Regions from separate parts of the Homo sapiens genome. Here region 1 is linked to region 2. The links come from fine-mapping of genetic effects on gene expression. A gene starts in region 2. The other region holds a variant in brackets. All regions are shown on one strand. Distances are from middle to middle. Region 1 overlaps LOC102724528 (a long non-coding RNA gene). Region 2 holds the start of DNM3 (dynamin 3).

Evidence for each region.
Region 1: its variant is fine-mapped to the expression of DNM3 in whole blood (INTERVAL, PIP above 0.99).

The regions. Positions count from the first base shown.
Region 1 is chr1:172,415,216-172,420,597 of GRCh38, forward strand. All of the region lies in intron 1 of LOC102724528 (a long non-coding RNA gene), which reads right to left. It also overlaps a transcript of DNM3 not described here. Among named protein-coding and RNA genes, the nearest start is that of C1orf105, 2.8 kb to the right of the region's middle. The variant T/G (reference allele first, on the strand shown) is at 3,078.
Region 2 is chr1:171,839,373-171,844,754 of GRCh38, forward strand. It overlaps DNM3 (dynamin 3), which reads left to right and starts at 2,126. Exons shown (of 21, transcript NM_015569.5): 1 at 2,126-2,445. The coding sequence starts at 2,285. RefSeq lists a silencer at 1,941-2,170 and an enhancer at 2,371-2,550.

The DNA.
Region 1 (5,382 bases), 580 kb after region 2:
CACAAAAGCAGTTTAGAGACATACATGCATTGAGTCTTAATGAGACTTATGAAGGATTCAGATAATTTTATACCTTACCTTTTCTCTCTGACTCTCCAAAAAAGGGATTCTTTAAATTACCTCCATGAGATTATTGTGAAGGAAGGCATCCAGGTTGATCTAAGATTAATCATCAGAGAAGAATGTTGAAGACTATTCCTATTGCCTTTCTTTCCTCCCTTTCCCAAGCCTTCAGGCTCACTCACTGCTCTGGGTTATTAACTTACCTAAAGGATGGGCAAAGAAAGCAAACAGAGCATTTTTTGTGAGTTTTTTTTTTTTTTTTTTTTTTTGAGACAGAGTCTCACTCTGTTGCCCAGGCTGCAATGCAGTGGTGTGATCTTGGCTCACTGCAACTTCCACCTCCCAAGTTCAAGTGATTCTTATGCCTCAGCCTCCCCAGTAGCTAGGATTACAGGCGTGTGCCACCATGCCTGGCTAATTTTTGCATTTTTAGTAGAGACGGCATTTCACCACATTGGCCAGGCTGGTCTCGAACTCCTGACCTCAAGTGATCCGCCCACCTCAGCTTCCCAAAGTGCTGGGATTACAGGCATGAGCCACTGCACCTGGCCTTTTTTGTGAGATTTTAACAGAAAAGAAAAAAGCTATAAGGAAGACCTCCTCAGAGATCTGGCCAGAGGAATGTCACCATAAGACCAAATTTCAGCGTTGACATAGAGCCAAAAGAATGAGGGTAATTCATCATTCTTGTTAATAATTGAGTCTTTTATATATAAATTACACCCATGTTCCAGATACAGCTTTCCAATCTCCTTTACCTGATTTGGCCAAAACATGCTGCTTTGAAGTTATTTTTCAGAATGCTTAAGAAAATATAACCTGAAATTATAGTCTTGATTAGGTAAATTTGCTTATATGTTGAATACTAGGATGGTGAGCTTAAGAATTTGTTAGCAACTCAGTATTCCAATTTAGTACTGCAACTTTCATATGGGAGTGGCAATTGTATGAGGTACCTTTGTAGCTCTACATGTAAAAAGCCCAAATATTTGCAGCACTTGCCTTTAAGCATTTCGGCACTGTGTAAGTCATATAAAAATTATGCAAAAGAAAGAGCAAAAACCCCAACTGCCCATATCCTTAAAAGAACTAATTTTGACCCAGTAAATGGTATCATCAACAACAATGCTTTTTCAGCAATGACAGGAAGGGTAGATACAGTAAAGTGAAGATGAAAAGAAAAAGCTGTCTGAGGATATAAATGTCACCCTGATGTTTCAAGCAAACATTCTAGCTGTCAGTGGAATATATTCCAAGACATAAAGTTTCTGATCCTGTTTCTGGATCAGAACACCAAACTAGCTCAAACAGGAAAGTGTTTTGGCATATGCTAACAGAATGTCGCTTCAGCACTGTGGACTTGCTGTTCAGTTTAATGGCCCACCTCCCCACCCTGCTGAGGTCATTAAAGTGTTCTAAAGCCCCTTCAGAACTCGAAAATAGTTTCTGTTTTCTGGGCAGGTGATAAATCTCATTGAGCTCGACAGAAATTTAATTACACTTTCTTCATGAAAACACCAGGGATACCCATTACCTGGATCTCTAAAGCTAAAGCCTTGCAGACCCCCTAGCCCCTGCCCCGGCCCTGAAGTTGAAAGGTTAGGTACCAATAACAAGTTCTCCATCATTTAAATGGATGGGAGGCCTCTTTAGTGTAGTCAGCTTAAACTGGACTGAAGGAAAATTGATTTTGGACTTTGGGGAAGCTAAGATCATTTTTTACCACTGCCCAGAAATACACCAGTCAGTTTGGCTCCACTAACATCTCATAGAAAATGAAAAAGAAGTTTTTCTGTTTTTGTTTTTGTTTTTTTTTTATAGACTTCATTGCTCCACTCACAAGCAAGAATAAGATGTGTAACAAGAATAAGATGGAAGTGAGCGTTGTTGAACACCTGGATAAGAAGTCAAAGAGAGTAGGGTCTTGAGATAATCTCACCATTCTACAGCTTCCTATAATGTTGAGTTCATTAATGGTTTGGTTAGAAAGGGGAAATTAAAGTGTAGACTTCTGCCAAAAACCAGAGGGAAAGCTTTATTTGGCCTGCTGTTTTCCTACTTACAAAGCTGTTCATTGCAATGTAGGGTTTACTGTATTTTCTCTAGCTGCAAATCATCTCCCTGCTGAACACAAGAAAGGCTGATGTCAAATGAAGCACAACTTGGACCCTCATTTCATTATCCATAGGTCTGATGAAATGCAAGCCAGCCTAGGGAAATGGAGAAAGATCCAGCAGACCAGATTTCATTTACCTTGGGCCCACTTCAGAACAAATCAGAAATACAGTTATACCTAGCTCTTAGACAGAGGGAAATCCTAGAAAATCCTGGGGTTGCCATGGACCAGACCTTGCCTCCTAGTTTCCCTAGGCCTGAATCCAGGCTATTACACACCAGGACTACTCACCTGGAGCAAATTCTTATTTACAAATCCTTTTTTTCTGAGATCAACCTCTGGCATTCTCTGCATTGTGATTACATTGCTCATTTGATCTCTTGACACCTTCTAATTTACCTCACTTAAAAAAAATTTAACCTGCCATTGGCTACATCAACTCCCTCTCCCCCTATGGAGATTTCACAACATTCATTGAAATCTTTGGAAATAACTGAGTTTCACAAAATCAGGGTTGAAAATCAAATATACAAGTTATAAAGGTATTTGGCTCGGGGACTAGTCCCAGTTCTCCTGAATAAGAGTGCATGGATTTATCATTCCATGGTGCAAAATAAGAAGCTTTTTGAGTGAGCTCAAATGGCTCATACCTAGAACATTGCTAGTAGCCAGGAAAAGTCCTGGGAACTGCTAACTTAGCTATGTGATGTCCCTTCATTTCCTTTGCATGTCTGCATGTTTTTGTGTGTGATTTGAATTTGACTTTTGTGAGCTATTTTTGCATGCTATTATTTGGGTTTATTTTATAATTTAAACATTGTTTTCTTCCTCTGCATCTGTGTCTTTCTTTTTGTTATTTTGTTTTGTTTTGTTTTGTTTTTACTAGGCGACCCCCTCC[T/G]GCAGTTCCAGGACGACCATCCTAACCCCCATCATTCATCTCCTTTTGTTTCCAACAACATGTCTATCCATGGTATTTAAAAGCTTTTCATTTGCACTATATGTCGTATGTACATAAAAACTTTTATTTTTCATCCATGTGTATAATAAAAACAAAGTTTATTCTATATAAAAATGAAGTGTGTTCTGTTTCTTTTTTTAAAGAAGACCTAAATTTAAAAAAGAATTTGTTTCAACTAAAACAAGGTAAGGTGAATATATTATGTGTTCCTCTAAGAAGCTTAATTCAAAAGTTCTTAAAGCATTGTGATTTAAGACGGTCTTTGGTAGAGACTAATAATCTACCTTCAAGTGAAATTTCTGTCCAATAGAAGAATAAAAAGAAAAAGAAAATTTATGGATGTCTAGAAAAAACACAGAAGACTAAATAATTCCAATCCACCTCCAGGAATCCCATTTTTACTTATTATTGCACCAAAATATTTTTTCCTATTATTGTTTTTCTAAACACTCTTAAGGGAGATAAAATGTAAGATCATAGAAGAAACTGTAGAGCAAAAACACATAAACCTCATAAATTCTATATGGCAAATGTAAGGGCGAAAAACCACATCATTCAGAATAAAAGTACAAGGCAAGGAAATGTTGCCACCTTGAGAAGAAAGACTCTTCATGATGTCAGTAAAGCACTAGAAAAATGGAGTCCATATAAGTTTGAAGGAATAGAGAACTTTTTATTCCTCTATCCTCAAATGGTAATTCTAACACTAAAATTTTAATCTATAATTTTTTAACAAGCATCCCAAAGATGTATCCAAATAAAATGTTTATTATTTAGGTAATATAGTACATTCCACCAAATATGTGATCTGAAGCCTTCCCAAAGGTTTAAGATTTAATTCAGAATTTTATTTTTTGAAAATTTATGTGGCCTAAAATAGAACTTGAAAGTAGTCCTTCTCAAATGAGATCACTTCTGAATGTGCTCCCCTTCAGCATATTAAGATGACAGAAAACTACATGACAAGAGAGTCAAAAAAATCATTCATCAGTTCTATTTACTTCACATCTGACCTAGGCAAGCCCTGGCAAAGGAGGTATTTGGAAGATGTGGGCAGGAACCCCCAGTTGTAAAAGGGAGAGTCCTCATTAGTAATGCTGTTTCTTCGGACCACAAATTTTTTTAAGGACTGAGTTCTCCACTCAAAAATGAAAAATCAGTTTCTTGGTTTAAAATGTTCATATGGCATGTTACATTATTTTAATTGTATCCCCGGTCCAGTGACTACCATTTAAAATCAGTGATAACTAAGAAAGTTCAAAGGCTCCAAACCAAGGCATCAACTGAAGCTCATGTATAGCAGGAAGGAGGTGACTTGATGTAAAATAGCACATAGCATGCAGTCTTTTGTCCTTTCCTTCCCCTCCAGTCCAGGCATTTGATTTTTAAATCAATATTCTTAGTGGATAGCATTCTTCATCCCAATAGACAAAAATGTACCTAGATGATTTCATACCACCTCCCCAAATGAAAACCGAAGTTGTCAAAGAGAAGGTTTTCTTCAATTCATTTTTTAAAAGTGTTTGGTACTTTTCCACTTTGTCTTAAACATGGACTTATTTTTATATGCAGTGTTACACAGTTTAGATGTATAAAACTTAAATTGACCTGATGAATGATGAGAAGGAAAAACTCCAGTCATAACAGAATGAAATGACAACCTTACTCAGTTTTCCTTAACAAAGAAGTGTGTTCCCTTCCTTACATTCTATAGGCAAGAAAAAAGAGGGCAGGGGAAAGGGATGGGGGGCAGCCTGGAGTAAAATTAAATTATGCTAAGATTTGTTAATATGTATTTAGTAAATAGTATTTCTATGTTTCATAATATACCTTTCCCCAACTCTTCTTACCTCCACCTCCACCCTGCTATGTTTAATAGACTTGAAAAATTACTCCCTTTTTCAGAGTTGATCATAACTCAGGATAGTCAGGAAGAGCCAAACTATTATGCCTTTAGTAAACATAATATTCCTTATATATTTTCATTCCTTTATTTATGCATCAAACATTTCTTGAATTCATGATAATGTCCTGGACCCTGGGAATACCAGAGAAGTAACAGAATAAAAGTAGCTTACAAAATAGCTAAATAAGCAATTACAATGTAGTGCTACAATAAGAGAAAAGTTTGGTTGTCTTTCCAGGGAGAACTGTTCTGACTTCAGTACTGAAGCAGCTATCTGAGTTTTAGTATACTGTTATCAACTTTACCCAACACATGCTAATGTTCCAGAACATTGTGATT
Region 2 (5,382 bases):
TATCTCTAGTGTGAGAATGTATTTATAGGATTCTTTGACTGCAAGTAAAAGAAATATGAGTTGAATTAGGTTAGGCAAAGAGGAGAATTTATTATAAGTTTATTGGCGGGGAGGTTGTACAAGGAACTGAGGACAGGATTACAGTTGGACATCAGACATGAACAAGATTGAGGATACAGGTACTATCCGGATCTTCCCTCTTCTTTCCCTGTGCTCCTCTCCTTGTGTCTTTTCACTTTTCTCTTTCTCTGAAGATGAGCACTTCCCTTCTACTGGTGAAATCTTACTAACCATAGTTGCCAATGTTATTCCTCACTTATAGTTCAGTCACTCAGACAAAGGCCAATCTCTCTCTCAATTGCATACTCCTGGGAAAAGGCTTTGATTGGTAAAGCTCAAGTCAGGTGCCCAATCTGGTGCACACAGCTATGGCCAGGGCTCAGTTTTTCTTCATGCCTTTCTATCTTCATGACTGCTCTGGCTACAACCATGCATTGGATGGAGTGTTTCTTAGAAAAGGTTTCCTGGGCAGACATTCTAATAGAGATCCACTTCAGTGGAGATGCATTCAGTTTTATTTGTCTTTTTCTGCTGCTTTAAAAAAAAGTTGAGATGTAATGTACAGTAAAATGCACATCACTTAAAAGTTTAGTTTGAGGAGTTTTGACAAATGTATGCCCACATCCCAGTCAAGACATGGGACATTTCCATCACTCCAGAAAGTTTCCTCATGCCTCCTACAGTCAATCTCCACTCCTCAAAGACAACCACAGTTCCGATTTCTATTACCATAGAATAGCTTTGCTGGTTGTAGAACTTCACATACATGAAATCAAACCAATATGGTCTTTGGCCTTTTTCATTCTACATAATGTATCTGAGATTGTTGCTATATCAAAAGTCTTTTTTGTGGCAGAGATTATTTCACTATATATATATACCACGTTTGTTTATTCATTCACCTGTTGATAGACATTTGGGTTGTTTTCAGGTTTTTTGACATTATGAACATTTTAATATGTCTTTTTAGAGTTAGAAGGAACTGTACATTAAATGCTGAGATTACAAAAGATGACTTCAGTTTTGAATAAATTGAGTCTGTAGTACTTGTAGGACACTCAGGTAGTATTCTGGGCTCCTCTTGGAGTACAGTCTAAGTTGCAGAAGAGAGACAGGGTCTAGCAATGTAAATTTCTGTAGTCGCCAGCCTTGATTCAGAGTTAAAGCTATGGGAAAGTCCTCAGGCAGAGGACAAACATTAGACAAGAAAATGCCCATATATGAAACCCTGCGAAGCATCAGTATTTGAGGAGCAGACTAAAAAGGAACCGTCTGTGGAGGCTAAGAGAAGCATGGCCATTTATCTTTGTGTCCCGATCATCAGGCACAGGACCCCACACACAGTCACTTCTCAATGTGCTAAATTTCACAGAATGCGTCCAGGGTACCTGGTTCTGGATAGATCCGGTAGAAGGAGATAGACCGGGAGGGCAAATGGCATGAGGAGTCTCACAGGCCAGAGTGATTAAAGGGGTGTATCGGGGCGGTAAACCCTACAGACTCTACCTGTGCTTATGCGGGGCTGGGGAGGACGAGTCATTACAGATGAAGAATTAAGTAAGGTCAGACCACTCAGGGCCTTAGATGGATGTCACATTGAAGAATTTAGACTCCAACAGGCCTGCCACCCTGGGAGGAGTCATCGCGGATTCTGGAGAAGGGCGTGACAGAGGAGATTTCCTTTCGGGAAGTGTAGTCTGGCAGCGGTGCCCCGGTGGTGGCGGCGGCGGTGCTGCTGTTGCTGGTGATCGTGTGGTGGTGTTAGCGGCGATAGTGCTTTCCACTGGGCTTTGGCTTGGTAGCCGCTGAAAGAGAACAACGCTGCCGCTGCTGCTGATTTCATGCCATTTCCTGACCCGGCGCTGTAACTTGGCCTCTGAGCCTTGGCCACAGAACGCAGAGGCCGTGGCATCTGGCCGCAGCTGGGCTGCAGTGCGTGCGCGCCTGGCCTGGTGGTCCGATGGGAAGCCCGGGGCGGGGCAGCCGCGGGGCGGGGGCGGGGCGTCGCGGAGATAGGCCACGCCCCTGCCCGCCCGCGCAGGCGCGCTGCGGGTCGTTAGCTGTCAGAGCCAAGCGGCGGGCTGGCGGCGGGCTCCGACGTCTGCGCCAGGACCTGGCTGGCTGAGCCCGGCGCAGCAGCAGCAGCCAGGGCAGCGCGGCCCCTACTCCCTGTCAGGTCGTAGAGGCGAGCAGGGACCAGCTGGTCGCCGGCCCCTCGGGCAAGATGGGGAACCGGGAGATGGAGGAGCTGATCCCGCTGGTGAACCGTCTGCAGGACGCGTTTTCGGCGCTGGGACAGAGCTGCCTGCTGGAGCTGCCGCAGATCGCCGTGGTGGGCGGCCAGAGCGCCGGCAAGAGCTCGGTGCTCGAGAACTTCGTGGGCAGGTAAGCGCGCAGGGCGCGGAGTAAGGATGCGGCAGTGGGGCGACCCCGCTGCGGGCCGTTGGAACGTGGACGGGCAGCGGGAGCCAGAGGGTGGATGGACCAGGCGCTGCGGTGGAATGGGGGGCAGAGTGGAATGGGGGGCAGAGTGGCGGTGTCCGTGGGGCGGGCGGGGTCCTCCAGCTCTGGGCATCCTCCGTCCCCTGCCACCCCCCGCCTGGTGGCCCTCCTGCCTGCCTTTCATCGTGCGATACAAAGCCATTTCCTCCCTGTCCTCCAGTCGGGGAGTCGGGGGAGGGGTCCGCCCCGGGCTCGACCCCCACCCCCTCGGTGCGCGCCAGCCCCGGGCAGCCTCCCTGCGTAGCGCGCCGAAAGCTTCCCAGTGCCCCTCTCCTGTTTTCCCAGCTCAACACCCCCCTCCTTTTCCTGTCGCCCTCCGTGAGGCTCCCTGTGAGGCTGTGGGGCTTTATCCCCCGAGCCCCCTCCCTTAGGTGGAGATGCTTTCCTTCTCGCCAGGGTTCTCGTTCCTCTCAGCTGTCTACTGTTGCCTGCCTCTAGCTGGGGAGGCGGGGTGCGAGGAGAAAGACGTCGTTTGTTGTGGTGAAGCTTTATCCAGAGACGCTTCCCCACCATTCTCCTCCCGGAGAGTCGAAGAATAAAAGGTGGTGTGTTTGCGTGTGCACCTATTCACAGCTTCAGGCAATTGTGAGAGAGCCCGAGGCACAGACTTGGCAGGGGGTGGACGTGGACTTATGTTGTCCAGGTGCCATGTCATTCCTGCATCATCTCGGAACTGACCAGCATCTTTCTCGCACTCTCTCTGCGCCCCCTCCCCCAGCATCATCTTCCGTTCTCTAAGCTCCTATTTGTCTTGCTAGCCTTCAAGACAACATTCTGAATCTAAATTGTAGCTGTGGTTTTCCTCATGACTCTTAATACAGAAACAGCTAAGGAATTAATTTTCGAATTAGGAATCAGCATTTCTTCCACTGAGCAATTCATGAGGGATTAAGTTACCTTAATGGCCTTGCCTGAAGAGTGCAGACATTTGCTAAGAAAAGCCCATTTAAAAGCATTATGAAAACTGAAATCTGTTTCCTAGTAATAGAAAACCAGGTAGAAATGTACAGTATCCAAGAAAAAATGCTGGCGAGATTGTACTTTATTCTTTTTATTTGGCTCATTCGTGACTTGGGATGCAGAAGGTTCCTGTTTCTGTTCCTTTTTTCTTTTTTTGTTAGTGCTTGGTGATGTGTAGAATTTAGAGCTGAATATTCCCACATTTCCTTTGGAAATGTTAGTGTTCATAAAGTACATATTCCTTTCTCTCAAATGATATTCCATCTCTCAGATGATATTTTTTTTCCTGTATGAACTAGAAAGATAAGAAGCCTAACAAAGTAAAATTGCTGACAATTGGCTTGTATCCTTGAGTAATTCACTTAATCACTACACCTCATTTTTATATTTTTTTTGATTAATGAACAAAGTGAAGGTAAAGCATTTTGCCTACGTCATCTTAGACTTTTGGTGAAGTGATGGATTTCAAACATATAACAGTTACTTTCTTTGATTTGTTGCCAATGAAATTTACGAGATATAAAGTGGCATCCAAAGAGTGAGTTTTGGTAACATATTTTTGGCTTTCCAAAGCCAGGGCATTTTTGTCATGACACCTTAAGAGTTATTTAACTATTTTTGTTTTTTAAACAAATACTTAAAGATTAAAACTGTAAGTATTTCAAATGAAATTACCATATTTTTATGCATCTCCCATATATTTACTTGGATGAGCCTATATTGTATGCAAGTGCATTGTTTGTGGTCAGAGCTTTTGAACTTAATGTCAGTTGTATGCACATACCACAATTCTACATTCTAGGTTTTGAAATTCTAACATTCTTCCTAATGTTATAATAAAATTGTACACATCTCCCCACACTAGCTATGTTCTTTTGGAATAATTTGAAAAAAGAAATGTAGAAGAGTAAAATATTTAAGTTTGAATATTTTTCAAGATGGAATAAAAAATAGGGACAAGTATAAAAATCAGAGCACGTACCAGAATGCATTAGTAATTTGTTGTACTTTAAAAAGTTTTACCACTAATTGACTGTTAGAACGCCAAATCAAAGAAAAGGATGACCATAGAGGAAAAAGGTCATTTAATTCATATGTAAAGTCTTAATTATATGTAGAGATAACACCTGCCTAGCAGAGCTTACATATTAAGGAGAAAATTTAATTAGGAAGGTCATTTGACTTTAATAAAGATTTCGGTCATTGAATTATTGAGGAATCTAATTTCTAATTATAAACCAACCTTAGGGAAAATGGAGTTTTCTATTTTGATAAGTTATTCAGCCTAGGTGGAAAAAATTGTATCCATTTTCTACTGTAACATCTTAGCATTTTCTTGTCATTATCCAGGAATTTTGCAATAAAAACAGTTTCTTTCCTAAGGATGCAACTTTCCTCTTTTACACGAAACAGTTTTCATTTTAAGACTCGATCTAATGTGCAGTTATTGAATGCAGCCATAAAAACCAAGGGTCATCACTTGTGTAAATTCATTGTGTTTGCTCTTGACTCAAGCTTCTTCTCTACAAAATAATGATGCATTTTCTCAACAATCCTCATTTAGTGGACTAACTGTATCTTCTCTCAGTTTGTTTATATTGAGTTTTTTTGGACACCAATGAATGAATTCGGATGTGAATATGTTTACTTCATTTAGCGGTTGCTGTAAAAGCTGATTTTTGGGTGACAGGTTTGAGATTGTTATGAATAAAATGAGTCATGAATGAACCACTTGTTTGTGATTTTCTTGCTGAAGTGATGAACTTGCATATTAATGTGATATAGCATGAGTAACCAGATTGTTCTTTTGGTGGTGCAGGATGAGATATATGCTGGCAATGAGAGGCAGCTTAAGATCTA